7 linked regions of the Homo sapiens genome follow. The protein of the gene in region 1 purifies or fractionates together with the protein of each later gene. This does not show direct contact. Each region holds a gene or a part of one and is shown in the gene's direction. Other genes may lie near its edges. The genes, in order: PLEKHG6, DHCR7, NUP214, PIGR, KRT81, TMOD2 and AMY1C.

What was found.
Region 2: the proteins of PLEKHG6 (region 1) and DHCR7 purify together in Homo sapiens (affinity purification with mass spectrometry, with the first as the bait; one large-scale study listed by BioGRID). This does not show direct contact.
Region 3: the proteins of PLEKHG6 (region 1) and NUP214 purify together in Homo sapiens (affinity purification with mass spectrometry; one large-scale study listed by BioGRID and IntAct). This does not show direct contact.
Region 4: the proteins of PLEKHG6 (region 1) and PIGR purify together in Homo sapiens (affinity purification with mass spectrometry; one large-scale study listed by BioGRID and IntAct). This does not show direct contact.
Region 5: the proteins of PLEKHG6 (region 1) and KRT81 purify together in Homo sapiens (affinity purification with mass spectrometry; one large-scale study listed by BioGRID and IntAct). This does not show direct contact.
Region 6: the proteins of PLEKHG6 (region 1) and TMOD2 purify together in Homo sapiens (affinity purification with mass spectrometry; one large-scale study listed by BioGRID and IntAct). This does not show direct contact.
Region 7: the proteins of PLEKHG6 (region 1) and AMY1C purify together in Homo sapiens (affinity purification with mass spectrometry, with the first as the bait; 2 studies listed by BioGRID). This does not show direct contact.

What each region holds. Positions count from the first base shown.
Region 1 is NC_000012.12:6,317,182-6,320,681, forward strand, and holds part of PLEKHG6 (pleckstrin homology domain-containing family G member 6), read left to right. Parts: intron 1-121; coding exon 122-232; intron 233-317; coding exon of another isoform or gene 318-365; coding exon 366-515; intron 516-675; coding exon 676-813; intron 814-1,119; coding exon 1,120-1,239; intron 1,240-1,563; coding exon 1,564-1,696; coding exon of another isoform or gene 1,697-1,776; exon of another isoform or gene 1,777-1,792; intron 1,793-1,811; coding exon 1,812-1,927; intron 1,928-2,389; exon of another isoform or gene 2,390-2,492; intron 2,493-3,500. UniProt on the Homo sapiens protein: Guanine nucleotide exchange factor activating the small GTPase RHOA, which, in turn, induces myosin filament formation. Also activates RHOG. Does not activate RAC1, or to a much lower extent than RHOA and RHOG.
Region 2 is NC_000011.10:71,433,911-71,436,152, reverse strand, and holds the end of DHCR7 (7-dehydrocholesterol reductase), read left to right. Parts: intron 1-179; coding exon of another isoform or gene 180-313; coding exon 314-778; 3' UTR 779-962; coding exon of another isoform or gene 963-1,043; 3' UTR 1,044-1,742; downstream 1,743-2,242. UniProt on the Homo sapiens protein: Oxidoreductase that catalyzes the last step of the cholesterol synthesis pathway, which transforms cholesta-5,7-dien-3beta-ol (7-dehydrocholesterol,7-DHC) into cholesterol by reducing the C7-C8 double bond of its sterol core.
Region 3 is NC_000009.12:131,128,586-131,132,085, forward strand, and holds part of NUP214 (nuclear pore complex protein Nup214), read left to right. Parts: intron 1-693; coding exon 694-892; intron 893-2,180; coding exon 2,181-2,251; intron 2,252-3,500. UniProt on the Homo sapiens protein: Part of the nuclear pore complex. Has a critical role in nucleocytoplasmic transport.
Region 4 is NC_000001.11:206,932,967-206,936,466, reverse strand, and holds part of PIGR (polymeric immunoglobulin receptor precursor), read left to right. Parts: intron 1-648; coding exon 649-981; intron 982-1,720; coding exon 1,721-2,047; intron 2,048-3,300; coding exon 3,301-3,481; intron 3,482-3,500.
Region 5 is NC_000012.12:52,288,735-52,292,946, reverse strand, and holds the start of KRT81 (keratin, type II cuticular Hb1), read left to right. Parts: upstream 1-1,412; 5' UTR 1,413-1,481; coding exon 1,482-1,850; intron 1,851-2,660; coding exon 2,661-2,869; intron 2,870-3,671; coding exon 3,672-3,732; intron 3,733-4,212.
Region 6 is NC_000015.10:51,813,730-51,816,863, forward strand, and holds the end of TMOD2 (tropomodulin-2), read left to right. Parts: 3' UTR 1-2,634; downstream 2,635-3,134. UniProt on the Homo sapiens protein: Blocks the elongation and depolymerization of the actin filaments at the pointed end. The Tmod/TM complex contributes to the formation of the short actin protofilament, which in turn defines the geometry of the membrane skeleton.
Region 7 is NC_000001.11:103,756,045-103,759,192, forward strand, and holds the end of AMY1C (alpha-amylase 1C precursor), read left to right. Parts: intron 1-750; coding exon 751-869; intron 870-979; coding exon 980-1,105; intron 1,106-2,424; coding exon 2,425-2,614; 3' UTR 2,615-2,648; downstream 2,649-3,148. UniProt on the Homo sapiens protein: Calcium-binding enzyme that initiates starch digestion in the oral cavity.

The sequences.
Region 1 (3,500 bases):
GGAGCTGGGCTAAGGGCCCCTGCGAGGCTCTCTTCACCTGCTCCTGGGTCCTGCAGCTAGAGCCTGTATTCATGGCCTTCTCCCCATGCCTGCTCCCCACCTCCCGTATCTGTCTCTCCAGTTTGGCCAGCGGTTCCACCCCTATGTCCAGTACTGCCTCCGAGTGAAGCAGACCATGGCTTACGCCCGAGAACAGCAAGAAACTAACCCTCTCTTCCATGCCTTCGTGCAGGTGGGAGAAGGGGTGCTGGGGAGGGGGACGGGTGCATCTTAGCCGGCCGGTCTCCAGCTGAGCCTGAGGCTGAGTTCACCACTAGGCAGGGCAGGAGGGAGCAAACCCTGAGCCCCACCCACCTTCCCTGCAGTGGTGTGAGAAGCACAAGCGCTCTGGGAGGCAGATGCTCTGTGACTTGCTTATCAAGCCCCACCAGCGCATCACCAAGTACCCACTGCTGCTCCATGCTGTGCTCAAGAGGAGCCCCGAGGCACGAGCCCAAGAGGCCCTGAATGCCATGGTAGGTGCCCCAGTGGGGCTGGGACTCTGGTGAATCGGGGACTGGGAGGGGGGTCTCTTTCTTAGTGTGTCTGTGACAGTGTGGCGCTGTGCTGTGGCTGGCATTGGTTGGGAGGGGACGGCTGAGCCGTCCCTCCTCCCACACCCCCAACCCCACCTAGATTGAAGCCGTGGAGTCATTCCTGCGACACATCAATGGGCAGGTCCGCCAGGGCGAAGAGCAAGAGAGCTTGGCGGCTGCAGCACAACGCATCGGGCCCTACGAGGTGCTGGAGCCACCCAGTGATGAGGTGGAGAAGGTGAGAGGGCAAAGGGAAGGGACCCAGGAAAAGCAAGGTCCCAGGGATACTGGTGAAGGGGAGGGCTGCAAGGCCAGAACACCCCGTACTTGGGTGCTACAAGGGTGTCCATCATTCCTACCTGGTGGTGACAGTCCAAGGGGTACAGGTCAGAAGAGCAAAAAGGAGGCCCTGGGAGGCTTTCTCTAGCCCATGGGGGAAGGATACAAACAGAAAGGTGTTGGTGGCAGAACCAGGAGCCGCCCTTGGCCAGGAAGTCCAGGCAGACTGCCGAGCGCCCTGACCCCTCCCCTCTGTGTCCCTCAGAACCTGCGCCCATTCTCCACCCTGGACCTGACGTCCCCCATGCTGGGGGTTGCATCTGAGCACACCAGACAGCTGCTGCTGGAGGGGCCTGTGCGAGTGAAGGAGGGACGAGAAGGGAAGGTGAGGGTGCTGCGGACAGAGTGGAGGGGATGGGGCACGGTGGGAGAAGGTAAGAGGCAGAAACGCCGGAAGTGGGAGAAGAGGGGTTTGGGGAAGAGGATGTGGTTCTGGCTAAGCCCCAGTCATTTGTGTGACCCTGAGCCAGCCACTTTGCCTGCCTGTAAAGTGAGAGATGTGACCAAAGCGACGCCCCTGGCCACTCCCGCATTTGGGCTCTGCGTGTGTCCCTGTGTGCCTGCGCACCATGCCTGAGCCTCCTCCCGGACCAGCCCTGCCCCTGGCTCCAGCTGACCCTGTCTCTTTCCCCTACGCCCCCACCCCCAGCTGGACGTGTACCTGTTCCTCTTCTCTGATGTGCTCCTTGTGACCAAGCCCCAGCGCAAGGCGGACAAAGCCAAGGTCATCCGACCCCCTCTCATGCTGGAGAAGCTCGTGTGCCAACCCCTGCGAGACCCCAGTACGTCCTTCCTTCAGGGAGTCTTTTCTTCTCCCTCTTCTCAGCGAGGGGAAGGAGGAGCTGGGACGGAGATCAAATAAAGGCTGGCCTCTTGAAGGTTGTCTCCTCCATCCAGACAGCTTCCTGCTGATCCACCTCACTGAATTCCAGTGTGTCTCCAGCGCCCTCCTTGTGCACTGTCCCAGTCCTACAGACCGTGCCCAGTGGCTGGAGAAGACCCAGCAGGCCCAGGTATGGGAAAGCCAGCAACGGGGAGGCATGGGCAGGGGTCCCCGGAGCTCAGAAATGGGAGCACAGTGGTGGATCACACCTGTAATCTCAGCACTTTGGGAGGCTGAGGCAGGTGGATCACCTGAGGTCAGGAGTTTGAGACCAGCCTGGCCAACATGGTGAAACCCCGTCTCTACTAAAAATACAAAAATTAGCCGGGCGTGGTGGTGTGTGCCTGTAGTCCCCATTACTTGGGAGGCTGAGGCAGGAGAATCACTTGAGCCCGGGAAGTGGAGGTTGCAGTGACCTGAGATCGTGCCACTGCACTCTAGCCTGGGTGACAGAGTGAGACCCTGAAGAAGAAGGAAAAAAAAAAGAATGTAGGAAGGAAGGAAGGAACGAATGAACATGGGAGCGCAGAGGGGAGGAGGAGAGAGGCTGGGGTGGATTCAGTTTCAGACTGGACAATCTGATGTGCCCCAGAGAGGGAGGCAGAGCCTCCACCATCCATCAGAAGACAGAAAAAGCCTTTGGCCAGCTACTGTGCCAGCCACTGGGAGAGCCCAAGATACAGCATCCCCTGAAGGTTTGTACAGCCTGAAATGATTAACTTCTAGAAGTCATCTTCCATTCGCAGACATTTACAGGGCACTTGCTGAGTACGGCAGGCACTAGAGCTAGGTGCTAGGGAATCAGAAAAGAGTAAACCACCATTCCTGCCCTCAAGGCCTAGGTGCTGCAGCCTGGTTGAGTAATTAGTATACAAACAATAGAGAGAAGTTATGTAGAATGAAGCTGGGACAGAGAAGGGAGCAAGGCATTGTCTGCTGGGTCTGTTTGGAAGGGACACAGAGGAGCTGATGTCTGAGCACCATTTGGGAGGATACCTAGGAGTATGTCAGGGAGTCAGGGTGGAAGGGAAGGGCATTCCACATGGAGGAGCAGAACGTGCAAAGGCGGGAACTGTGAAACAGTTGTGTGTGTTGAGAGAACTGCCCCCATTGGTATTGCTACAGTATCAAGTACAAGAGTAGACGCAGCAGGGAGAGGCTAGGGGGTAGGTGCCACCAGGTCATGCCCATCTCTGCATGTCATGATAAAGCATCCTATAGATGAGCTTTGTCCTTTGGATGACAGAGGGCCAGTGAAGGAGTCGGGCAGGGGAGTGATGTGAGCAGATAAAAAGCAGGAGGAGTTCAAAAGAAGAGAGATGCAAATGGAGCTGTATTAGGTCCCACAAACTTGGTGGCCTAAAATGCATCAGAAGCTTACTCTCTCACAGTTCTGGAGGCCAGAAGTTTCAAATCAAGGTGTTGGCAGAGCTGAGTTTCCTCTGGAGGCTCTAGAGGAGAATCCATCCTTGCCTCTTCCAGCTCCTGGTTGCCCCAGGCGTTCCGTGGCTTGTGGTAACAAAATTCCAAACTCTTTCTCTGTCTTCCCATGGCCTTCCTCTCTGTATGTCTCTGTGTCCAAATTTCCCCCTCCTTTCTCTTACAAAGATGTGAGTATTAGATTTCGAGCCCACCCTAAATCCAGGGAGAACTCATCTTGAGCTCTTAGGATCTCTGCAAATCTGCGAAGACTCTTTTTCGAA
Region 2 (2,242 bases), on another chromosome or scaffold:
ACAATATTAAATTCAGATTATATTTTTAATACTGTTACATATTTGATGTTTATGCTATATGTCATATATATAGGGGGTATATATACACACACACATACACACACAGACAGGTAGAAGGCAGGTAGAGTTACTCATTTAATGACCACAACAGCCCTCAAGGTTGGTGCTTTTATTCACAGAAGAGAACACGGAGGCAAGGCGTGTGTCAGAGGCAGAGCTGGGGTTTGACCCCAGGCCGCTGGGCCCCCGAGCCCACACTCCTGTCCTCTCCCTGGGCAAAGCACCGCTTGACCCCTTCCCCCTCGCCCCCCAGGGTCTGTACTTGGTGTACCACCCCGTGCAGCTGTCCACCCCGCACGCCGTGGGCGTCCTGCTGCTGGGCCTGGTGGGCTACTACATCTTCCGGGTGGCCAACCACCAGAAGGACCTGTTCCGCCGCACGGATGGGCGCTGCCTCATCTGGGGCAGGAAGCCCAAGGTCATCGAGTGCTCCTACACATCCGCCGATGGGCAGAGGCACCACAGCAAGCTGCTGGTGTCGGGCTTCTGGGGCGTGGCCCGCCACTTCAACTACGTCGGCGACCTGATGGGCAGCCTGGCCTACTGCCTGGCCTGTGGCGGCGGCCACCTGCTGCCCTACTTCTACATCATCTACATGGCCATCCTGCTGACCCACCGCTGCCTCCGGGACGAGCACCGCTGCGCCAGCAAGTACGGCCGGGACTGGGAGCGCTACACCGCCGCAGTGCCTTACCGCCTGCTGCCTGGAATCTTCTAAGGGCACGCCCTAGGGAGAAGCCCTGTGGGGCTGTCAAGAGCGTGTTCTGCCAGGTCCATGGGGGCTGGCATCCCAGCTCCAACTCGAGGAGCCTCAGTTTCCTCATCTGTAAACTGGAGAGAGCCCAGCACTTGGCAGGTGTCCAGTACCTAATCACGCTCTGTTCCTTGCTTTTGCCTTCAAGGGAATTCCGAGTGTCCAGCACTGCCGTATTGCCAGCACAGACGGATTTTCTCTAATCAGTGTCCCTGGGGCAGGAGGATGACCCAGTCACCTTTACTAGTCCTTTGGAGACAATTTACCTGTATTAGGAGCCCAGGCCACGCTACACTCTGCCCACACTGGTGAGCAGGAGGTCTTCCCACGCCCTGTCATTAGGCTGCATTTACTCTTGCTAAATAAAAGTGGGAGTGGGGCGTGCGCGTTATCCATGTATTGCCTTTCAGCTCTAGATCCCCCTCCCCTGCCTGCTCTGCAGTCGTGGGTGGGGCCCGTGCGCCGTTTCTCCTTGGTAGCGTGCACGGTGTTGAACTGGGACACTGGGGAGAAAGGGGCTTTCATGTCGTTTCCTTCCTGCTCCTGCTGCACAGCTGCCAGGAGTGCTCTGCCTGGAGTCTGCAGACCTCAGAGAGGTCCCAGCACCGGCTGTGGCCTTTCAGGTGTAGGCAGGTGGGCTCTGCTTCCCGATTCCCTGTGAGCGCCCACCCTCTCGAAAGAATTTTCTGCTTGCCCTATGACTGTGCAGACTCTGGCTCGAGCAACCCGGGGAACTTCACCCTCAGGGGCCTCCCACACCTTCTCCAGCGAGGAGGTCTCAGTCCCAGCCTCGGGAGGGCACCTCCTTTTCTGTGCTTTCTTCCCTGAGGCATTCTTCCTCATCCCTAGGGTGTTGTGTAGAACTCTTTTTAAACTCTATGCTCCGAGTAGAGTTCATCTTTATATTAAACTTCCCCTGTTCAAATAAGTGGCTGTGTGGTTTCTGACTGGTGAATGGGCCTGACTCGTGAATGGGCCTGACTGCAGGTCTGACTGGTATACGTGGGCTCTGTTTCTGGTATGAGAAGGGATGTCTGAGAGAGATGCTTGGGTCTCGGCGTCAAAGCATTGGGTGCCCGTGGGTGCGTGGCGCCACCCTGCCCCTCTCCCTCCCATGTCAGCCCTTTGCTGGGGCTGTTTTTGGGTTGAATGTGGAGAGTATTCCATTCCCCCCCAAGGAGATGAAACCAGGCTTGGCCACCTGCCCCCGGCAAGTGAATGGAGAAGCCAGAAAGAGTGCCAGGTTTGTCTTGCACCTGGAGAAACAAGAGTTTCACACAGGCAGCCCAGTGCCCATGCCAGGGCAGGGGGCCAAGCTCAGAGTGGCTTCATTGCTTCACATGAGAACTGGTCCCACAGCCAGGCCGCCTCCCAGACAGCCTGGAGGGTATCGGAACTGTGACCCGCCCAGGCTGACTGCTGAGCCCT
Region 3 (3,500 bases), on another chromosome or scaffold:
TCTCTAGATTAAAATATGGGTTAAAAAAAAATCCTTAATTATAGAATCATAGATCTTTGAGACAGAAGGGACTTCAAGAAATTCTTTCATAACGCCATCTGCCCTAAGTTGTTATCAGGAGGCTTAGGTGACTTGCCCAAAGTCATAGATGAATACATAATGTCAAAAGTTCCTACATTTTGGATGTTCTTCCATTCCAAGCAGTTTAAGAATGATAATAATAGTGAGTGTTTATACTGACTGTGTGTGTTAGACTCTGTACTAAGTGCTTTATATGCCTTGTCCCTCGTTCATGCCTACCACAGCCTTATGTAGTAGGTACTATTATCTTCATTTTATAGGTAGAGAAACAGGCTCAGAGTTTAAGTAACTGTCCAAGGTCCCAACATTATTAAGAAGCAGAGCCAAGATTTTAATCTATTGTCTGCTATTTATTGGTTATTTTGCAATTGTGCATTCCCCTTCTGAGAGTCCCCCTAAGCATGTTAGAATAATTGATTGCCATTTTCAAAGTTGTGTTGAAATTGTCTATAGCAAATAGATTGATGCATAAAACAATCTTTTTTTATGGTTATGGAGAAAAATAAACTGATTTGAGATACCTTGTGTATTCAGTAATTTCCATTGAATATTAAATGTTTCTGCATTTACTATTTGTTAACTTATTTCACTTTTGCATATTTGTTTTAAAAGGCTAAACAGCAAAAACGCCCATTTGCCTATCATAAGCTTTTGAAAGATGCAGGAGGCATGGTGATTGATATGAAGTGGAACCCCACTGTCCCCTCCATGGTGGCAGTTTGTCTGGCTGATGGTAGTATTGCTGTCCTGCAAGTCACGGAAACAGTGAAAGTATGTGCAACTCTTCCTTCCACGGTAGCAGTAACCTCTGGTGAGTAATAAAGGCTTTCACACTGTAGCATACAATCATGGTCATCTACTTAAGAATTGATTTCTAGAAGTGAAAGTGGATAGCTTTTTGTGTTTTGGTTTTTTTTTTCATGACGAGGGAGGTTAAGGATGGAAGGTATTCTTTTTTGAGACAGTCTCACTGTGTCGCCCAGGCTGGAGTACAGTGGCATCATCTCAGCCACTGCAACCTCCACCTCCTGGGTTCAAGCAATTCTCGTGCCTCGGCCACCCAAATAGCTGGGATTATAGACATGCGCCACCATGCCCAGCTAATTTTTGTATTTTTTGTAGAGACAAGGTTTCACCATGTTGGCCAGGCTGGTCTTGAACTCCTGACCTCAAGTGATCTGCCCTCCTCCACCCCGCATATGCTAGGATTACAGGTGTGAGGCACTGTGCCCGGCTGAGAGTATTCTTTATACCCATAGTTAATGTCCTTGAAGCCAAACAGCATACATAATTTAACCTGAATGTACTTGGGATTTCTGGAGAAATATTTTGGTACAGCTGGTTTAGAAGTGTTTTTTGGGAATAATTGTTTCTGGATCTGTAACGGTGGTACTCTGAAAGTCATTTGTACCTTTGGGCGGAAAAGCATTTTAAATATTAAATGGGAGCAGGAGAATGATTTCTGGTTTTGTTTTTTTTTTTTTGTTTTTTTTTTGAGACAGAGTCTTGCTCTGTCGCCCAGGCTGGAGTGCAGTGGCGCGATCTCAGCTCACTGCAACCTCCACCTGCTGGGTTCAAGCAATTCTCTTGCCTCAGACTCCAGAGTAGTTGGGATTACAGGTGCCTGCCACCATGCCCAGCTAATTTTTGTATATTTTAGTAGAGACGGGGTTTCACCATGTTGGCCAGGCTGGTCTTGAACTTCTGACCTCAAGTGATCCGTCCGTCTCATCCTCCCAAAGTGCTGGGATTACAGGCATGAGCCACTGTGCCCGGCCAGTGATTTCTTGGTATTTGGAAACCTTCTCTGTTCTCCTTGTCTTATGTAAAGACTACAGAGTTTTCTGTATTTTGCAGCTTTCTGGGCAGTAATCTATTGAAAAAGCATTTTTAGCTTTCAATTCAATAGCCCAGTGATAAATCAATTGGCTTATATCGTTAAAATGATTTTACTTTTTTCCACTTTGCCTGATAGAGATGATCCTACAATCTTCCATGGACTGACAGAGGAATGAGAATTGATAATTAGCTGTGTGTGATAGATCTTATTGGTTTGCTCCATTTTCTTGTTTTCATTTGGTAATACTGTCTTTGCTCAGTGTGCTGGAGCCCCAAAGGAAAGCAGCTGGCAGTGGGAAAACAGAATGGAACTGTGGTCCAGTATCTTCCTGTAAGTTCTTATCTTGAACTTCAGAATTTTTCTTAAGTTGCCCACTTTTTTGGGGGTGGTTTGGGAGTATCTTTCTTGTTTTTCCTATTAAAAAGTAATTTATACTCATTGTAACAAATCCATCAGTGAATGAAGAGTGGAACTCTTCCCTTTCCCATAGTCCTTCTTCCAGAGGCACCCACTATGTTGTGTTGAGTAGATAGCCTTCCATACTTTTCTGGATGTTATACAAATAGTCTATGGGTAGCTGCTTTTTTTTTGTTGTTGTTTTTATGTAAAATGTGATCATACGCTATGCGCTGTTCCCCACCTTTTTCAGTCCATTCCATAAAAACAGCTCAAGGGAAAAGAGTTAGTGAAAAAACTATGATGATAATGCAGAATCACTCTGGGTTAAAGCACAGTATTTGTCTTTTAACTGAGTCTGTCTTTAAAGGTCTGTTTGTCTAACTATGGGCACCAAAGAAAATGGATACTCTTGTTGCATGTGCACTCTGTCATCCTCCCTGTGAATTTCTTGAAATAATGTTCACAAATATCCTTCAATATCAATTGAGTTGCAAGGAACCCCCATATGTCTATTGAGCCTGGACACGAAGGAGGGATTCACAGGTGGTGCTAAGGCCTTTCTTGTGCCTTCCTCCTCAAGACTGTTCTCTGGCGAGGAGGGGAGCAGAGTGGTGAATGTAGGTGGTATAGGTTTAAGGTTAAGGTTATGTTTCTTATTTGTTATTACCAAAAGTTACCTGAAATTTGGTACATAATCTTTTAGGACACTAACCTGTAAAAAGATAATGCAATTTTTTAAATTTTCTTGCTTTGCTGTTTGCCTTAATTTTTTATTTATTTATTATTATTTTTTTTTGAGAGATGGTCTTGCTCTGTTGCCCAGGCTGGGGTGCAATGGTGTGATAACGTAATGGTTCACTGCAGCCTCAGCCTCCTGGGCTCAGGTGATCCTTCCACTTCAGCCTCCCGGGTAGCTGAGACTACAGGCACTTGCCACCATGCACAGCTAATTTTTGTATTTTTTGTAGAGATAGGGTTTTGCCATGTTGCCCAGGCTGGTCTCAAACTCCTGGGCTCAAGCAGTGTGCCCACCTTGGCCTTCCAAAGTGCTGGGATTACAGACATGAGCCACCTCGCCCAGCCTTATTCCACTATTGATGATTGTCTGCATCAGTGCTAGTGGCGTTGCTGCTGCAAATGGTGTTGCATTGACTACTCTCATTACCTATATCTGAACATG
Region 4 (3,500 bases), on another chromosome or scaffold:
GTATCTGTGCTTGTGACTTTTTTTTTTTAAAGGGGCTTATATTCTCTGCATGCCATGTCCACATCCAGCTCTGGGTTTTCACCAGAATCCCCTGCATCTTTGGTCACCTGCTTCTCTCTGGATCTCAGCTTTAGCTGCCTGGAGAATGGCTATCGTCTTTGAGATGCCCCTTGGGGCCCCAACAATTAAGCTCACCTTTGCTACATACTTTATAGTTTACATCATACCATCCTAAATATATTTTCTTGATTTGGGCATAATCCATTGGGCCACTTTTGTGGAATACACTTGTTAGTGTACTAAATAGACAAAAACCTACACAGAGGGAGACTTTGTAAGAAGCCAAAGAAGAGCTGATATCCTCTCCTTCAACTCCTTCCATTCTCTGCTCAGAATAAGATGGGGGAAAAGAACAACATGTGCAGGCTGATGGGGAGACTCCAAGCCCTTGGAGTCTGGCCCTGATGGCTCCAGCTGCAGGCTCTGTGACATTAGGAAAGCTCCTTTTCATTTTCTGAAGAGGGTAAGGTGATGCGTGTAAACTTCACTCCCCATCCTGGCTGAGACCCCGGGAAGAAGGCTTCTCAGGCCACGCAAGGCTCTTCCTGCGTGGCCATCCTCCCATCCCATCTCTGTCTGTGCTTCCAGAGTCCACGATTCCCCGCAGCCCCACTGTGGTGAAGGGGGTGGCAGGAGGCTCTGTGGCCGTGCTCTGCCCCTACAACCGTAAGGAAAGCAAAAGCATCAAGTACTGGTGTCTCTGGGAAGGGGCCCAGAATGGCCGCTGCCCCCTGCTGGTGGACAGCGAGGGGTGGGTTAAGGCCCAGTACGAGGGCCGCCTCTCCCTGCTGGAGGAGCCAGGCAACGGCACCTTCACTGTCATCCTCAACCAGCTCACCAGCCGGGACGCCGGCTTCTACTGGTGTCTGACCAACGGCGATACTCTCTGGAGGACCACCGTGGAGATCAAGATTATCGAAGGTAGGAGTTGACAGGGAGGGAGAAAGCTCTAAAACCTCTCCAGCCAGCAGCAGCATCCCCAACCACTCTTCCTCCTTTTTCACCCGCCTCCACCCTGATGGGCCAGACCTCAGGAGGGAGCCCACCTATCCAGAGGTCACATTTTCATGCCTATAACACGCACCTTACACTCTGAATTACCATACATGGTACCTCCTACTACCAAGAACATGGGCTTCTTTCGCAGTGTGCAGGCATCAGCTGAAGTCAAGGATTGCAGATACCTCTTTGTATTGAGTCTAGAAGAGAAGGAAGAGTGAGGAAAGCAAACTGAAGTCCATGTGTGAAGATCTATGGTCTATGGTAGACTCTGGATTGATCATGGTGCTCATCAATAATAATTATTACCTAGGCACACAATTACATTTCTTCTGTAGTCAGAATAACATACTTATTTCTAATGCTATCCAAAGAGGATATGTAGACTGAACATGGTGGTGCATGCCTGTAATCTCAGCACCTTGGGAGGCCAAGACAGGAAGATTGCTTGAGCCCAGGAGATGGAGGCTGCAGTGAGCTATGATCGCACCACTACCCTCCAGCCTGGGTGACAGAGAGAGACCTTGTCTCAAAAACAAAAACAAAAATATATATATATATGTATATGACATGTGGACAAAGATTCCCACCAGAGTCACTTCCCTGCAGCATCTCCAAGTACCAACTTCTGTGTTTATTTCTACCTCCCTCCCTCCTCCAGGAGAACCAAACCTCAAGGTACCAGGGAATGTCACGGCTGTGCTGGGAGAGACTCTCAAGGTCCCCTGTCACTTTCCATGCAAATTCTCCTCGTACGAGAAATACTGGTGCAAGTGGAATAACACGGGCTGCCAGGCCCTGCCCAGCCAAGACGAAGGCCCCAGCAAGGCCTTCGTGAACTGTGACGAGAACAGCCGGCTTGTCTCCCTGACCCTGAACCTGGTGACCAGGGCTGATGAGGGCTGGTACTGGTGTGGAGTGAAGCAGGGCCACTTCTATGGAGAGACTGCAGCCGTCTATGTGGCAGTTGAAGAGAGGAAGGCAGCGGGTGAGTCTCCAAGGACAGGGCCTGCACCCCTCAGACCCAGAGGCAGGACTTCCTGAAGGCCCCTGCCTGAGAGCTTCTCAATCAGTGCTGGCCCCTATGTTTGGCTGTAAGAGGCTGAAAGTGGAGAGTGGGAAGGGAGGGGACATTTAGGTCCTATATAGCCTCGTTGAGCCCTTCAAAAGGGACATCTCAAATAAACATACCAACTAAGTAAAAATAGTGGGTTTGCTATTTAACCTCGGCATTAAGACAACTCCCAGCTGAATGTGGTGGCTCACACCTGTAATCCCAGCACTTTGGGAGGCCGAGGTAGGCAGATCACTTGAGGCCAGGAGTTCAACACCAGCCTGGCTGACATGGAGAAAACTCGTCTCTACTAAAAATACAAAAATTAGCTGGGCATGGTGGTGTAATCCCAGCTATTTGGGTGGCTGAGGCATGAGAATTGCTTGAACCCAAGAGGCAGGGGTTGCAGTGAACTGAGATCGTGCCACCACACTCTAGCCTAGGCAACAGAGCTAGATTCCATTTCAAAAAAAAAAAAAAGACAAGTCCCATAGTTGCCACTTCAACCCAGATTGAAGTCTCTTCTATATCTGGAAATATTCTTCTCTGTATAGAAGAATAATATGCATACATCACTGTCATATGCAATATGTTCATCCCCCTTCCCCCTGCCAAAGCTCGCCCTCGAAAGAGGGCCAGATACCTTCATTTACAAGGTCTGATCAGGAAAATTAGGAAACATCTAGTAAATTTGCATTTCAAGTCCCCTTTTAAAATTTCACATGAAATGTTTTAGCCCTAATAAGGGTATTTGTAGTCCCTCAAGAAATCCTATTGGGTCTGGACCCTGCGGATGGGACTCACTGAGGGGCCCATCGCCAGGCTACCTCCAGGGGGCAGCACTATCATACCCAGCTGGGCAGTCAGGAAGCCTGGGGCAGCGTCTCAGAGCCTTGAAAATCTCCCGGGCATAAGTGATGGGTCAGCCTTTATGCACAGCTGGTCTATGACACGAAGCCTTGAAGGTCCCCACTATACTTTTGGTAGTAATGGGGCAGAGATCATCTGTGACAGCTGAAGAAGGCCATCACAGCTGTTTCTAATGTCATCCTGGGTCCTACCCCAACAGCCTTGAGATCGAACCCTGACCCTGTGATTCCTCATGAAGTCTCCCCCAGACTCCTTCACCTCGAGGAGTAAGAGCATAGAGAAAAATCACAACCCAGGCCCACTCTTCCCTGCTGCAGGGTCCCGCGATGTCAGCCTAGCGAAGGCAGACGCTGCTCCTGATGAGAAGGTGCTAGACTCTGGTTTTCGGGAGATTGAGAACAAAGCCATTCAGGATCCCAGGCTTTTTGCAGAGGAAAAGGCGGTGGCAGATACAAGAGATCAAGCCGATGGGAGCAGAGCATCTGTGGATTCCGGCAGGTAAGGAAGGATTCAAGGC
Region 5 (4,212 bases), about 46 Mb from region 1:
GAGGCTGGTCTTGAACTCCTGACCTCAGGTGATCCACCCCCCTCAGACTCCCAAAGTGCTGGGATTACAGGTATGAGCCACTGCGCCCAGCTGTGATTCAATTTAGCATCACCAATCTGACATTTTATGCTTCCTGGGGTGATATAATAAGAGTTACACAGCATATTTTATGAAGTATTCTGTCCCAACAATGTTTAATTTAAACCTAATCCAGCCTCTAGCCCAGTGCTGTCCAACAGAATTTTATGTGAAAATAAACAATAAATAAAATAAAAATAAATAATAAAGAAGTGTTCTTTATATGCACTGTCTAATAAGGTAGGCACTACTTACAGGTAGCTGCTGAGGACTCAAAATGTGGATAGTGCAACTGAATAACTAGATTTTTAACTTATTTAGTTTTTACTAACTTAAATTTAAGTAGCCACATCTGCCTATTGTCTACCAAATTGGACATCCCAGCTCAAGATTTACTTTCTAATTTATAGAAAATACAAGGGCTAGAGCCACAAATTAAATTATGTAAAATGTAGTTTTAAAATCCTTAGGACAGTTAGGAAAATTGAATCTGAGATGAATAGTAAGTGGTGCTTTGGAATTATTGTTAATTTTCCTGAATAAGAAAATAGTACTCTCCTTATTCTTAAGAAATTCCTGCTGATGTATTTAAGGGTGACATGCCATGCTTTCTGCCACTCAAATAATTGGGCAACTGTGAAAGCAAATATGGTATAATGTTAACTGTTGAATCGGGGTAAACAGGTGGAGCATCAATGCATGTGTGTTGTATTATTCCAATTTTCCTCAATATTTGAAAGCTTTCATCATAAAAAAGATAAAAGACAAATATTTAATAATCTGCTGACTGTTCCCATGGTAGGAAAAGTGAGATGGTTTTCAGCTGCCAACTGAAAAATCTGGAGATGGGGAAATCCAGATTTGTGTTTCAGGAGCACTTTAGCCACAGCTGTGATGGAAATGAGAGATGGTATTTATTAATGCCTCAGCCTTTCCTGAAACCCCTCTCCCCACATCACACTTAACACACAGGTCTCCTCCTCCCAGTTTCTCCCAGCACCTGGCCTCCCTTCTCTTCCCCTCGCCAGGCTCTACTCCTCCTTCTCGTCCTCTCCTCTGCCTTCCCCTTCCCTCCCCAATGCCTGCAGATGAAGGAATGCCCTGCTGGCAAGACACTTTGAAGATGAAACATGCTGACTCCCCCAGAGCCCAAGACTGACATCTTTTACAAAGAAGAGGGTGCAGGCCACTCCCCCATTAAAGCACATTCTGGAGAGGCGTTAGACCCGGCTAACCACCCAAGCCCATAAAGCGCAAATTGCCCCAACATCATCTTCACAGCCAAGCCCCTTCAGAATCTGCGCATAAATAGGGCTGCGGTGCCCTGAGGAGCACATTGGAGTTTCCATCAGGACTCCAGGTCCCCTATCCTGTCCTCTGCAACCCAAACGTCCAGGAGGATCATGACCTGCGGATCAGGATTTGGTGGGCGCGCCTTCAGCTGCATCTCGGCCTGCGGGCCGCGGCCCGGCCGCTGCTGCATCACCGCCGCCCCCTACCGTGGCATCTCCTGCTACCGCGGCCTCACCGGGGGCTTCGGCAGCCACAGCGTGTGCGGAGGCTTTCGGGCCGGCTCCTGCGGACGCAGCTTCGGCTACCGCTCCGGGGGCGTGTGCGGGCCCAGTCCCCCATGCATCACCACCGTGTCGGTCAACGAGAGCCTCCTCACGCCCCTCAACCTGGAGATCGACCCCAACGCGCAGTGCGTGAAGCAGGAGGAGAAGGAGCAGATCAAGTCCCTCAACAGCAGGTTCGCGGCCTTCATCGACAAGGTGGGTGTCCTGGATCACACCCTTCCTGAACCCCCACCACCTACACAGCCAGGGCCGGGCACTAAGGATGGAGTCAGAGGCACAAAGACCTCTGCCTGCCTGAGATCCCAGTCTGATGGGCGAGGCACACAGACACACAGACAGACAGACACATGCACAGACACACACACACAGGCACTCAAGATGCAGACTCAGCTGACAGTTCAGATAGAGGGAGCTTGTGAAGGAAAAGTGTGGCCAGGCTGCTCTGGGGCACAAGCTAGACATCAGGGAGTTGGGGGAGGGGGGCATGTGACCACTGCTGCTGAACTCAGAGGGGTTTGGGCAGCCCCAGGGTGAGAGAGTAGGGTGCACTGACTTCCAGATGACACAGGGGAAGGGCTGGGACAGCTGAGCTCCCTTCCAGATGGCCTGTGACACCCTCTTCCTGGCACCATCCCCAGAAACCTCATCTGTGATCTGAACCTGAGTACTCTGCCTGTGTGGGTTGCTGATCACCTAGTTTCATAGTGAGGGACTGAGCCTCCACTTCTGTTCATCTGCTTGGGTTGGGGGGGGGGGGTCACTCAACTCCCCAGGGAGCAGGCACTGACACCACCCAGCCCTTGCTCCACTCCTGAGTGGGAAATCTAGACACAGATCATGACCAGGAAATCCAGAAATTGTCTGTCTCCCACTGCCCACCTCTACTCAATCTCAGATAAGCTCCAGATTTGGGGGTTCCCATTAAAGCACCTCCCCTGCGAGCCCCCAGAGCTGGCTTTGGGGCACCAGACACCATCTGCCCCACCTTCCCACACCGAATGGCAGGTGCGCTTCCTGGAGCAGCAGAACAAACTGCTGGAGACAAAGCTGCAGTTCTACCAGAACCGCGAGTGTTGCCAGAGCAACCTGGAGCCCCTGTTTGAGGGCTACATCGAGACTCTGCGGCGGGAGGCCGAGTGCGTGGAGGCCGACAGCGGGAGGCTGGCCTCAGAGCTTAACCACGTGCAGGAGGTGCTGGAGGGCTACAAGAAGAAGTGAGTGCGGGCAAGAGGGATGCTGGGCACAGGAATGGGGTTTAGGTTAAATACACTGGATTAGACAATAAGAACTCCCAGGTAGGGTGAGTGGCCATGACCACTAGATTGACCGAGGGTGGCGGGGTCTTTTCCTTTGTGGAATCTTTGCCCAGACACCTGTGTAAGAGGAGGGCTGTGACTCCCATGACCTGTCTCTGTCCCACTTCAGCCTTCTCTCCCTGAACCACATCACCCAGCAGCTCTCCCCTGCGCTGGGTGGGGAGGAAGCCTCTGCAGGGTCCAGGCCTTCTCTCCTGACCCTCAGCCCCTATACTTGTAGCACCTGTCAGATGTGAGCCCAGGGTCTCTCATGAGTGACAGGTCTTGGGCTCTGGGTGTCCCACTGCCTTAGGTTCTAAGTCCTGAGGGTCTGCGGGTCCAGGAGGCCCCATACCTGAGCTGGGATTGATACCAGTGAGGGGAGGCTAGGGCTACAGGCCCTGAGAGTCCACGCTGTCCACTCCCAGGATGGGGCTGGGGGCTGAGTCCTATTTGCCTCCTGGGGGACCTCAGAGCCCCTTTGGGAACAGGACTGGGAGGTCCCAGATGAGCACTCTCCATCCCCAGTTCAAAGTGGATAGAGAATCCCAGACACATCCCACATCCAACTAGAAAGCACTAAGCTAGGCTGCCAGGCCGGGGCTGTGTGGAGGTGTTTCTAGTACTGTCCCCATGGCTGTGATGAAGTGTGATGTGATGGTGGCTCTGCAGAGACCTGCCCTGCCCTGACCTCCCCTCTCTTCCCTCTGCTCTGTCTCAGGTATGAGGAGGAGGTTTCTCTGAGAGCAACAGCTGAGAACGAGTTTGTGGCTCTGAAGAAGGCAAGTGACACAGGATTGAGAAGCACAGATCTGTGGGATCTCAGAATGACAGATTCTTCCTGGGGACACACAGGGGGTCTCAACCTCAGCGTGGGGCACAATGACCTTTCCACAGCAGGCTAGGACTGCCCAGATGCAGGCCTTTGTATTGAGCATCCAGGGCCTTGACAAAGGGCAATGACTTGGGAATATCTACCAGCACCTACCTTGGGCAAGGGGATGGCTGCACTGTCCTCTGTGTGTCCTGCTCTGTTCCAGAGGTTGTGGTCTATTGCTGAGGCCCCTGGAGCCATAGCAGATACAATGTCTCTGCTGAGAGACAGTGCAGTCTGTCTAGCATTTTGGGGAGTCTGACCTTGAGGCAGAGACACAATCCCAGGGTCTAAGGGGGGATGGAGAAGAACCAGGAGCAGCCACTGGGCTCTTGGAGCACTTGTGGGGGACAGGAAAGGGTCAGGGTGTGAGAGCTGGGGGGTCAGT
Region 6 (3,134 bases), on another chromosome or scaffold:
CTTCAGCTATAAAATGGGAATAATACTTCACTAACTACCTCACAGAGTTGTGGTAAGAATATAATCAGATAACTGGATAAAAACACTATATAAACTGGAAAGCGCCGTACAAATGTGAGAGATCAGTTTTATTATCAAATCACTGTTTTCCACTGCCTCTTGAATCGGCTTTATTCTAACCAACCATTACATCTTTCTCATCTTTTGGAGTATGGGTAATTGAGGCTTGGGTGTGTCATCAGGGACTGGAGTTATTTCAGCTCCCATGTAGAGGTGGGAGAGGTGGTTGATGGGGCAGTGGAAGTTAGATACCAGCGATGTATATGGTAGGACATTTTCCTGGGTCACTTTGACAGTACCTTGGGAAATTGTCAGTCCTTGCAGAGGGCCTAGGCTGGGCACAAGGGAGAAAGCGAACAGTTGACTAAGAATTGAGGGGAGGGTCTGGAGCGCTACTGCCCTCCTGTCATTGCTGTGGGTGGGAGAGGCTAAGACTTCAGGTTTGACTGGAGGCCTAGGAGAGAAGAGTGTCCTTAGGGTTTCAAGAATTTTAATGCCTAGCAGCTGAGTAACAGGCATTAGTTCTGATAGATAGTGAAGGGGAGAAAGTGCCACCTGTTGTGAGATCACCTCTCCAGGGCAGCAGCTGCCTTGTTATCACCAGCAACCTTAGCCCTGGTCAGTAATATTTCTGCTAAGAAAGGTTTTGAAGCATGGCCTCCAATGACTTTCATAAGCCCTTGGAGGCAGGACTGTGTCTCATCCATCTTTGTATCTTCAGTACCATCTTGTAAGGTGCCTTGTACATAGTAGGTGCTTAATGAACAAATGTTGCTTGAATTTAGCTGTCGTCCAGCCCCACAGAGTTATGCTCCATTTGCCACCATGTGATATTTTTGAGAAACAATAGTGATTTGGATGCCAGCTCTATGTGACTTTGGGCAAGACTCTCCATCTATCTTGTCTTCATTTCATCTGTAAAATGAAGTGAGTAGATTCAATGCTCCCTAAGGTCCCTTCCAGCTCCAATACTTGACAAGCTTGTGATTCTAAATCGTTTCCGTTGCCTCTGAACATGGGTGAGTAATGCCTCCACTGCAGCTGTTTCTCTCCAGGAGGCTTTGTTCAGAGGAGGTCTGACTATTGCACAGCCAGTTTTTTCTTCCTCTTCAGCAGTTCTTTACTGTCTTCAGAATGGTTCTGGATAAGCGGCCTTTTCTGAAAGGATATTTAAAAATATATACTATTTAGGCTGGGCCCAGTGGCTCATGCCTGTAATCCCAGCACTTTGGGAGGTGAAGGTGGGTGGATCACCTGAGGTCAGGAGTTCAAGACCAGCCTGGCCAACATGGTGAAACCCCGTCTCTACTAAAAATACAGAAATTAGCTGGGCCCTGTGGCAAGAGCCTGTTATCCCAGCTACTGGGGAGGCTGAGGCAGGAAAATCGCTTGAACCCAGGAGGTGGAGGTTGTAGTGAGCCGAGATCACACCACTGCACTCCAGCCTGGGTGACAAGAACGAAACTCCATCTCAAAAAATAAAATAAAATATATACTATCTTGCTCCTCAGAACCAGTGGGGAAGAAGAGGGAAGGCAAAGAAAGAAACTGAGCATAGTAAACACAGCATTTTTTTGTAGGCTCTTATTTAAAATGTGTGTGTGTGTGTGTATGTGTGTGTTTCTGAGTAAGTATTGACTGGGAAAAAGAGAGAAGTCAATCAAAAGTATACTGTGCAATTGAGAGAGGCTGGCCCAAGATTTAAAACTTCCTGTGGGTAATCTAACTGTGAGTAGATAGGAATCGGCCATATGACGAAATGAGATCAATAGGAAATGTGCTTTTTGAGGAAATTTTATTTTAGTACCAAATGTTGCCAGTGACAATCTTCAGTTAAGAAGTAAGTTATTCTGACCTAAAATTCTTATCTCTGCCACTTTGGTTTAAAAACAAAAACCCTTATATACATGGAATAGTTATATTTTAATTAAGCATTTATTTTAGTTGTTTTCATCCATTCAAGCAAAATGAATAAGCAGCATTTTTCATTGCACTTAAAAATGTAAAATACCTGCATGCCACTAATCTGTAACATTTTACCAGTTCAGATGCCTGTAATGTGTGACTTTATGTGTGTCTGTGTTGTTTTGAAGAGAATAAAGGAAATAATACTTTGCAAACTGTTTAAACAAGTGTTTAAACTTCTATTGGCAACATTTATTGGGCTAAGCAGTTATTGAAAACTCCGCATAGTTTTATTTTCCATTTGAAACTTCAATCAAATCAAGACTATTATATTCATTAGGGAATTAAAGACTAATTTGCTTTTTAAATGTGAAGTTGAACACTGTGTGGAAAGTAAATGTGTGATGAAGCAAAATGTATAAAGTATGAAATATTATACTTTTACCCTGGATAATTATTCAGGACCCCAGTTGGCCCAAATAGGTGCAATTTTTAATCCTTTGAAATTAGCCAGCCAGACCTAATGCTAAGGTAAATGTAAACTGTTTTAATTAATTAAGATCTTTCTGCTTTCGAAGGTATAATGTATCTATTTCTGTCAGGAATGATATTTCCAAATGAAAATGTAAAGAACATTGGGAAATAATAAACTTTCCTTTCAAAGTAAAAGTAAAGACTGGTTTTATATGGCTAATTTTTAGACAGTGTTTCTTTAAAACAAATGGTTGGCATCATGTTCTTAGATGAGCACATTTGCAGAAAACTATTAAATGCCCTTATGATGAAGAAACAAGACAACTGCAAGTAGCCATAACAGAGAGAAATAACTTGTTATCAAACAAAAATGAACACATTTGGCTAAATAGTTAAAAATTTGTTAGAATGAATGGGAACAGGAGTACAGAAAGCCCAAACAGGTTGACTATTTTACCCTGAATTTTTTACACTAATTTTGGATTTACATTATTATTCTCTTTAAAGCTCTTCTGATAATTTGTAATACTGAACACTAAAAATGATGAAGTTATGTTGTAAAGGTTTGACCCTGGAAAAACAGGAAAAACTGTTCTTCCTGCCCTTCTGCTGAACTCTGTCCCAACTCTTTGACCCTTGGATTTCAGTTTAGACTGATAAGGTTCAACTGAGAAACATAAAGGGCCAGTGTCTAA
Region 7 (3,148 bases), on another chromosome or scaffold:
ATATTACTTAATTTTTATAGCAAAAGAACTCATTATTCTCATTTTACAAATGAGGAAACTGAGACACAGAGAAATTATTTATATTGATTAAATTTTCTCAGCTACTAGTAATAGAGCCTATGTTTTAATCCTGGTGTTTCTAGTACTAATGCCCTTCCCATTTCAATGCCATTGCATGGCTTACAGTGATGTTAAGAAGCCCTTGCAGGCCAGGTGCAGTGGCTCACACCTATAATCCCAGCACTGTGTGCGGCCAGCTGAGAAGGTCAGCTGACCTGAGGAGTTCAAGACCTATCTGGGCAAGCTAGCAAGACCTTGCCTCTACTGAAAATTAAAAAAAAAAAAAAAATTAGCTGGGTGCGGTGGTGCACACCAACAGTCTTAGCTACTTGGGAGGCTGAGATGGGAGGTTCGCTTGAGCCTCGGAGATCAAGGCTGCAGTGAGCTACGATCATGCCACTGTACTCCAGCCTGGGTGACAGAGCAAAGAAGTCTTTGCAGTGCCTTGGAATGAAAAGGAGAGGATAACAATTTGCTACCTTTGTTTGAAATATGGCAAAAGAGAACCAGAGGATAGAGAGATGATGAAGACCCAGTAAAGGGCTATAAAAATCAATGAAGGCATTGGATTCTAGATAAAGTCACTGAATGCAGAGACACAAGTAACAGGATAGGTTGGGTTTGGTTTAAAGGAGAAGGAAGAGATAAATATATATATGCTAAAATTTGGCTTTTCCTCCTGTAATTAAGGATGTTAATGATTGGGTTGGGCCACCAAATGATAATGGAGTAACTAAAGAAGTTACTATTAATCCAGACACTACTTGTGGCAATGACTGGGTCTGTGAACATCGATGGCGCCAAATAAGGTGAGAATATGTATTTAGACATGTCCTCTAATAGTAAATTTCCGTAGCACTTTATTTAAAACAGTTGAAGTTTAAGAATATCAACGTTTTATATGGTATTGTGTTTTTAGGAACATGGTTAATTTCCGCAATGTAGTGGATGGCCAGCCTTTTACAAACTGGTATGATAATGGGAGCAACCAAGTGGCTTTTGGGAGAGGAAACAGAGGATTCATTGTTTTCAACAATGATGACTGGTAAGTAAATATCAATTAAAAATAATATTTTGTACCAGTATGTTCTTGGTTTATTCTTTTTTTTTTCTGTTCATTGACATTTATCATATCTGAAAAATCATGTAGTCAGTGGAGCGAGAAGACAATAGAGATCAAAATTGGGTAGAAGCAAAAGGATGATGGCTGTTACTCCTTCGTTCTCCTGTTTTCATAAGGGCTTTCTGTTGTAAGCAGAATCCTTTCTGTGCACCCTTGCAATATCTTATGCATATATAGAATGCACATTCATATGCTTACCTACACATGCCACAAAATACACAAAGTAATTAATAGAAGGATTGTGAAATCATTAAAAGAACGTTTCTTATAGTCCTGCTCTTTTAATCATGGAAAAATGCTGCCTCAGTACTAAAATATCTTTATTTCTCTTTTTCTCAATGACAGCTCTACCTAGTTTTTTGGTATACTTTCTTCACTTCTCTGTCTCCTTGTGACAAATAACATTTTTAAAGCATATGGATAAATAATATGTATCTTGTGGTTAATGATTTGCTTCAGGAGACTTGAGTTTTAGTTCTGAAACTTCTCATTATTGGCCTTTCATCTGTGATTTTTGTATCCTTTGGCTGTAGTATAAATGATTCCCGAAACTGTAGCTGAGAAGACCTCCTTGCAAACAGTTGAATTGTCTCTGTCCAAGGCCAACTGACACTCATACTTAGCTCACTCTAGTATAAATTATACTTCACTTATGAAAAATAAATAAATACAAAAATATATAAGTCAAGTTGATCTCTTTCCTGCCAAAAAAATGCGTGTCTATTTCCTTAGTTTCCTTCTTTTGTGGATGAAAATACCAAAAAAATCTTTTGTGAAAAAGCTTTATATTTCAAACTATCACTTCCTCATACAAATGCTAGATTGTTTTTATGTACACCCTAAATTCTTTTTGACCTCATGTAGAATAAAAGAAGGTTAAAAAAATAATACCCTTTAAATTTTTAAAGTAATTGGCATTAAGTTCAGTTGAGAAAAAATTTGATTTTACCAAGGTAGCACTTTATCAAAATGTGACCGCTCCCGCCAATCTTCGGTGATATTCTTCAACTTTGATTTTTCGGTTATATTTTCACTACTGAAAAGGAAATTGGTAGGTTTTCTGTAAGGTTACTTTTGGTCCTAGAAAGCTGTTTACACCTACTAGGGAGGCATATGGGTTTTCTTCTTAATGAGACTTCACTGCTTAGGGTTCTAAAACATAAAGTTATGCTGTTTATTTGTGTTAGTCTGTATTCTTGATTTCATTGTTTTGAAGTTAAATCTGAAATTTTATTTTACAGGACATTTTCTTTAACTTTGCAAACTGGTCTTCCTGCTGGCACATACTGTGATGTCATTTCTGGAGATAAAATTAATGGCAACTGCACAGGCATTAAAATCTACGTTTCTGATGATGGCAAAGCTCATTTTTCTATTAGTAACTCTGCTGAAGATCCATTTATTGCAATTCATGCTGAATCTAAATTGTAAAATTTAAAATTAAATGCAAATCCGCAAAGCAATAGCTAAGTGTGTTTCTTTTCTTACATATACAGTAATAGTTACATATCATTAATTTTAAATAAAAGCTCTAATTAGTAAAAAGAGGTTTAAGACACTTGATAGTATGAAATACAATTCCAGGTTACACATAAGTTATTTATTTTGGCAAAAGGATGACTCAAAAATTTTAAAACTAGGCAACAATCTTTACTCATTAAGAGGTAAGACTTAGCTTTCCAAACAGTTTGTCTCCTGTCTACTCTTTTCTCTCCTTGGCATTCTACCAACAAGGCAAACCAAATATTTCATTATTCTTCTCTATTACATGAAAAATCTGTACAAGGGAAGGAAAGCCAAATTTTACCCTTACATAGGTTTCAAAAGAATCCTTTTTCCATAGGCAACATTTACATTTTTATGCCTTTTTATAATCTTTTACCACAAACACATTTAAGTGTTCCTACACACCTTGCATGTAAATTTATTTTTAGTTGTCTTATTTACATATTTTTATGGTCAATC